Linked DNA regions of Homo sapiens. The protein of the gene in region 1 purifies or fractionates together with the protein of each later gene. This does not show direct contact. Each region holds a gene or a part of one and is shown in the gene's direction. Other genes may lie near its edges.

Region 1 (3,322 bases):
AGCCAGGTGTGGTGGTGGGCACCTGTAATCCCAGCTACTTGGGAGGCTGAGGCAGGGGAATCACTTGAATTCGGGAGGCAGAGGTTGCAGTGAGCCGAGATCGTGCCACTGCACTCCAGCCTGGGCAACAGAGCAAGACTCTGAAAAATAAATAAATAAAGTAAGTAAAAAAAATTTTTTTTTTCTTTTTGAGATGGAGTCTTGCTCTGTCGCCCAGGCTGGAGTGCAATGGTGCAGTCTCGGCTCACTGCAAGCTCTGCCTCCCGGGTTCATGCCATTCTCCTGCCTCAGCCTCCCCAGCAGCTGGGGCTACAGGCACACACCGCCACGCCCGGCTAATTTTTGTATTTTTAGTAGAGACAGGGTTTCACTGTGTTAGCCAGGATGGTCTCGATCTCCTGACCTTGTGACCCGCCCACCTCGGCCTCCCAAAGTGCTGGGATTAAAGGCGTGAGCCACTGCGCCTGGCCGTAAATATTTTTTAAATATAGGCAAGAGATCTTTAATGAATCTCAAGCAGCATTTATAAAAAATGCAATAGGACAGAGAATATCAGTGTGCATTGTGTGACGTATGGGTAAGCACTGTTTCAAGACTCTCCTGTTCCAGAACGGAGAGGCACGGTGTGCGTGCATGGGTTACACAGTACATCACAGCCGTATCGTGGGTTCTGGTCAAAAGGGCTGGCCAGCGTGGCCACAGGGCAACCTCCAGCCCAGCCGGCACCAGCAGGCCTACTGCTCTCTCCCCAGGTGTGCCGAGTGCAAGACCGTCTTCCACCAGAGCTGCCAGGCTGTGGTGAAGAAGGGCTGCCCCCGCTGTGCCCGCCGGCGCAAGTACCAGGAACAGAACATTTTCGCCTGATGCCCATCTGCTGACCCCGCTCTGAAAGCCGGGGGTGAGTGTGGCTCAGCCATCCCGGCTGGGTTTGCCATCAGCCCAGGATACTCACCGTGTCACAGCTGTGTCCCCTTGTCAGGAAGACCCTCAGATGTGGCCAGAGCACCGGCCTCCCAGAGAAAGCCCAGGAAGTCCCCGTGGTGTCCCCTGGCCCTCCCCCCACCCCTCTGCTGCAGGAGGCGTGGCCACCACCAGATGCTCCCTGTCTGGGGCAGGCAGGGCCGTTTACTCACCAGGCCCTGGCTCACCAGCGTCCCGGCGCCTCCGTTAGGGCTGCCCAAACACTGTGGAAAGGGGACTTGGGGAGCATTTTCAATTCCACATTCCTGATTAAAAGGTCTAGTTTTTTAAGGTGGGTTTTTCCCATTCATATTTCAACAGAAAGTATTTTTTTATTCTTGACCCTACGTGAGTCACCCATGAAATCCAGACATTCTCACCCCCAGCGGATGCACAGGAGCCACTCAGGCCTGGCTTAGAGGTAGCGGGTGGCTGGTGGGCAGGCCACTGCTGGGACAGGGTCTATGGGCCCACCCAGTGCCTTTCCTTGGCCCTCACTGCCAGTGCCAAACCGCCCCTCAGCAGGGCAGGGCCAGTCCTGGCGACCCCGGTTCCTCTGTGTCCTCTTTACTCCCCACCCCAGTGCGTCTCGCCTGCTGAGCCCACCGCTTTCTCAGCGTCAGAGCCCCTAGCTCTTCTCTAGCCTGGGGCCTTGGCCCCATTAGGAGAAGGAGAAATGACTGGAAACCAGCACTGTCAGCACTTTGAGCCCTCCTCGGTTTATGGAGGGTCGCCGTCTTGCCCACCCCCGATCCCCGTGCGCTCCTCACCCCTCTACAGACAGGGGCGCTGCTGCAGATGCTCCAGGCCCACCTTGGTGGGTGCCCGGGGTCACACTCTCTGCCTGACTGACCCCTGCCAGGGCACAGATAGGCAGGACCCCAGAGAGGGCAGGCAGCCACGCCCTGCACTGTGGAGAAGTGACCTGGTCCTAAGCTGTGCAGGGCGTGCGGGGGAACTGCCCTGTGGATGCAGCCACCACCTCACAAAGCCATGAATTCCCAAAGCATCACTGAACTTGCCCAGCCGGGACACTGGAGACTGAAGAAGTTCCCCGGAGCAGGACTGCCTTTGAAGGGGCCTTGGGGCTGGGGTGGGAGTCTGGAATTGTTTTCAAAGTGATGGTCAGACCCTCCAGGCTTCGGGGAAATGTGGGTTTGCTGGTCTCTCTGTCGCCTTCCCCCACCTCTCCTGGACCTAGCAGGCCCTCAGTCCTAGCTGTCTTACCTGCGCTCAGCTTGGAGTCAGGCCTCAGGTGGAGAGCCGCATGTCACTGTCAGAGATGAGCCCACCCCCACCCTTCCCTGGGGGCGATTAGCTGCTGAGTCACCCACCCAGCCTTGGAGCTGGATGCCTGTGCAGCAGAACAGAGGCAACGGTGGCAGGCAGGTGGAGGCTGCGCACAGCTTCTCCCGGTCATGGCACACACCTGTGCCCAGACGCCAATGCCTCCTAAGCCAGGAGCTGGGTTATGCACCGCCATGGCCCACATTAACGCTCCACCACAAGCCCAGCCTAGTCAGAGCCCTCATTGCCCCATCCCTGAGTGGGCAGGAGCCTGGCCTGGGGAGGGCTTGGGCCTGTGAGGATTCTCCCCGAAGGTGCCCTCGGAGGCAGCAGGTTTGAGGCCCTGGGGGGCCCGTTCCCCAGAAGCTGCCAGTGCTTTCAGATGCATTGACTCTTCCCGCCTCCCCTCCCTCAGAAAGGTAGTGCCCACACTATTTTTAAAATGTTATTTTATGCAATACACTGTTCCTAGTGAGCAGGGCTCTGGCCCTGAGGAGTCTTTGCAATGTATTGAAGGAATTGCTGCCGTGTGAGTTTTGAATGATTTTGCAGTAAAGACCTGATCTTTCTCATCACTGGTCTGGCTTCTGAATTCTAACACTGCCACGGCCAGGGGGGAGACCACCAGCCATCTGTTACCATCTGTCAGGGTCCCCTACCCTCATGTTAGTCCCTGGCACGGGGGAAGGCTTGGGAGGTCCGTGGCAAACACTTGTAGGCAGAGGGCTTGCATGCCAGGAGTGGGCAGGGAGAAGAGAGTAAGAAAACCACCTTGCCAAGCCCAGCAGTCAGGCTCTTCCTGGGGTAGGATCTCAGGGTCTCTGGGGAGGTGTACCCACACTTGTATAACAACTCAAGCTGATCCCACGCCGGTGGCTTCTTTTCCTGTGACTTAAATGTCAAAACACAGACCCTTGACACTGGATCATGTGAAACCTCAGGATACAGGGGACATTTCTCAGAGGAGAAATAAAGGAGAGATGGGGCTCAGGAAAGAAGGGTTATTTAAGTGGATCCCCCGATTCAGGGCTCATGGTTTTAGGGCTCAAAATGACTTTTACTTGGCTGCTGACCT
Region 2 (3,500 bases), on another chromosome or scaffold:
ACTTAAAAATGTAAACTTTGAAATGTTTTTTAAAAATGGTCTTTTACAGTTACTTTTTTTTCTTTCTTTTTTTTTTTATTGATCATTCTTGGGTGTTTCTCCCAGAGGGGGATTTGGCAGGGTCATAGGACAATAGTGGAGGGAAGGTCAGCAGATAAACAAGTGAACAAAGGTCTCTGGTTTTCCTAGGCAGAGGACCCTGCGGCCTTCTGCAGTGTTTGTGTCCCTGGGTACTTGAGATTAGGGAGTGGCGATGACTCTTAACGAGCATGCTGCCTTCAAGCATCTGTTTAACAAAGCACATCTTGCACCACCCTTAATCCATTCAACCCTGAGTGGACACAGCACATGTTTCAGAGAGCACAGGGTTGGGGGTAAGGTCACAGATCAACAGGATCCCAAGGCAGAAGAATTTTTCTTAGTATAGAACAAAATGAAAAGTCTCCCATGTCTACTTCTTTCTACACAGACACGGCAACCATCCGATTTCTCAATCTTTTCCCCACCTTTCCCCGCTTTCTATTCCACAAAACCACCATTGTCATCATGGCCTGTTCTCAATGAGCTGTTGAGTACACCTCCCAGACGGGGTGGTGGCTGGGCAGAGGGGCTCCTCACTTCCCAGTAGGGGCGGCCGGGCAGAGGCGCCCCTCACCTCCCGGACGGGGTGGCTGGCTGGGCGGGGGGCTGACCCCCCCACCTCCCTCCCGGACGGGGCGGCTGGCCGGGCGGGGGGCTGACCCCCCCACCTCCCTCCCGGACGGGGCGGCTGTCCGGGCAGAGGGGCTCCTCACTTCCCAGTAGGGGCGGCCGGGCAGAGGCACCCCTCACCTCCCGAATGGGGCGGCTGGCCGGGCGGGGGGCTGACCCCCCCACCTCCTTCGCGGACGGGGCGGCTGGCCGGGCAGAGGGGCTCCTCACTTCCCAGTAGGGGCGGCCGGGCAGAGGTGCCCCTCACCTCCCGGACGGGGCGGCTGGCCGGGCGCGGGGCTGACCCCCCCACCTCCCTCCCGGACGGGCGGCTGACCCCCCCACCTCCCTCCTGGACGGGGCGGCTGGCCGGGCGGGGGGCTGACCCCCCCCCACCTCCCTCCCGGACAGGGCGGCTGTCCGGGCAGAGGGGCTCCTCACTTCCCAGTAGGGGCGGCCGGGCAGAGGCACCCCTCACCTCCCGGATGGGGCGGCTGGCCGGGCGGGGGGCTGACCCCCCCACCTCCCTCCCGGACGGGGCGGCTGGCCCCCCCACCTCCCTCCCGGTCGGGGCGGCTGGCCGGGCAGAGGGGCTCCTCACTTCCCAGTAGGGGCGGCCGGGCAGAGGCGCCCCTCACCTCCCGGACAGGGCGGCTGGCAGGGCGGGGGGCTGACCCCCCCACCTCCCTCCCGGACGGGGCGGCTGGCCGGGCGGGGGGCTGACCCCCCAACCTCCCTCCCGGACGGGGCGGCTGGCCGGGCGGGGGGCTGATCCCCCAACCTCCCTCCCGGACGGGGCGGCTGGCCGGGCGGGGGGCTGACCCCCCCACCTCCCTCCCGGACGGGGCGGCTGGCCGGGCGGGGGGCTGACCCCCCCACCTCCCTCCCGGACGGGGCAGCTGGCCGGGCAGAGGGGCTCCTCTCTTCCCAGTAGGGGCGGCCGGGCAGAGGCGCCCCTCACCTCCCAGACAGGGTGGCTGGCAGGGCGGGGGGCTGACACCCCCCACTTCCCTCCCGGACGGGGCGGCTGGCCGGGCAGAGGGGCTCCTCACTTCCCAGTAGGGGCGGCCGGGCAGAGGCGCCCCTCACCTCCCGGACGGGGCGGCTGGCCGGGCGGGGGGCTGACCCCCCCACTTCCCTTCCGGACGGGGCGGCTGGCCGGGCGGGGGGCTGACCCCCCCCACCTCCCTTCCGGACGGGGCGGCTGGCCGGGCGGGGGGCTGACCCCCACCTCCCTCCCGGACGGGGTGGCTGCCGGGCGGAGATGCTCCTCACTTCCCAGACGGGGTGGCTGCCGGGCGGAGGGGCTCCTCACTTCTCAGACGGTGTGGCTGCCGGGCGGAGGGGCTTCTCACTTCTCAGACGGGGCGGTTGCCAGGCAGAGGGTCTCCTCACTTCTCAGACAGGGCGGCCGGGCAGAGATGCTCCCCACATCTCAGATGATGGGCGGCCGGGCAGAGACGCTCCTCACTTCCTAGATGGGATGGCGGCCGGGCAGAGACGCTCCTCACTTTCCAGACTGGGCAGCCAGGCAGAGAGGCTCCTCACATCCCAGACGATGGGTGGCCAGGCAGAGACGCTCCTCACTTCCCAGACGGGGTGGCGGCCGGGCAGAGGCTGCAATCTCGGCACTTTGGGGGGCCAAGGCAGGCAGCTGGGAGGTGGAGGTTGTAGCGAGCCGAGATCACGCCACTGCACTCCAGCCTGGGCACCATTGAGCACTGAGTGAATGCAACTCCGTCTGCCATCCCGGCACCTCGGGAGGCCGAGGCTGGCGGATCACTCGCGGTTAGGAGCTGGAGACCAGCCCGGCCAACACCTACAGTTACTTTTAAATTAATGTCATTTTTGAAGAATGGATTATTTAATGAACATTTTATATATAAATATATGTCTTTTTGGAAAGGGGAATTGAGTCAAGAGCAGATTTATATTCTCTTAACTGTGCTTTATTTAGGCTGAAACTAACAATTCTCCAAATATAACTGATAATCTATAAATATTTAATGACAAGTGGCAGTCTATTTAGGGAAAACTAAATTAGTATTGAGACAGTCTTGTGAATAACATATTTAACTTTAATTTTGAATTGTGAATTTCAGTTCTTTTCTTTCCATTCTTTCATTCTTTCCTACTTGCTGCCCTGCCCATTTTTTTTTTTTTTTTTTTTTTTTTTTGAGGCAAGGTCTCACTCCGTTGCCCAGGCTGGAGGGCAGTGGCTTGATCTTGGCTCACTGCAACCTCCACCTCCCAGGTTCAAGCAATTCTCATGCCTCAGCCTCCTGAGTAGCTGGGACTACAGGCGCCCGCCACCATGCCTGGCTAATTTTTTATTTTGTATTTTTAGTAGGGATGGGGTTTCGCCATGTTGGCCAGGCTGGTCTTGAACTCCTGGCCTCAAGTGATCTGTCCACCTTGGCCTCCCAAAGTGCTGCGATTACAGGTGTGAGCAACTGCACCTGGCCTTGCCCTGCCTTTTTAAATTAATTATTGTCATCTATTTTATTCTTCTGCCTTGTGTGGGAGAATAAAATCATCCTGTTTTGTTGTTTCTTTCTTCCATGAAACAGTCACTGAGTATCATTTATGTGCTGGGATCACTCCAGGTCTTGGCGAGTTAAATGAAAATGACATTGGCCCAGCTCAAGGGCCAAGGTGTGGGGTTTGGGCAGATGTGCACATTATTATAAAGTGATGTGGTGGCGAGACCACTTGTATTAATTTAGAATTTTACGTGTGTATATATATATGTGTGTGTATATATATATGTTTTAAAACTTTGTTTGGAATGCCTCAGAAAATGTTTTTTA

Evidence for each region. The genes of interacting proteins can lie anywhere in the genome.
Region 2: the proteins of PLEKHM1 (region 1) and SEH1L purify together in Homo sapiens (affinity purification with mass spectrometry; one study listed by BioGRID and IntAct). This does not show direct contact.

What each region holds. Positions count from the first base shown.
Region 1 is NC_000017.11:45,435,400-45,438,721, reverse strand, and holds the end of PLEKHM1 (pleckstrin homology domain-containing family M member 1), read left to right. Parts: intron 1-752; coding exon 753-864; 3' UTR 865-2,822; downstream 2,823-3,322. UniProt on the Homo sapiens protein: Acts as a multivalent adapter protein that regulates Rab7-dependent and HOPS complex-dependent fusion events in the endolysosomal system and couples autophagic and the endocytic trafficking pathways.
Region 2 is NC_000018.10:12,979,011-12,982,510, forward strand, and holds part of SEH1L (nucleoporin SEH1), read left to right. Parts: intron 1-3,500. UniProt on the Homo sapiens protein: Component of the Nup107-160 subcomplex of the nuclear pore complex (NPC). The Nup107-160 subcomplex is required for the assembly of a functional NPC.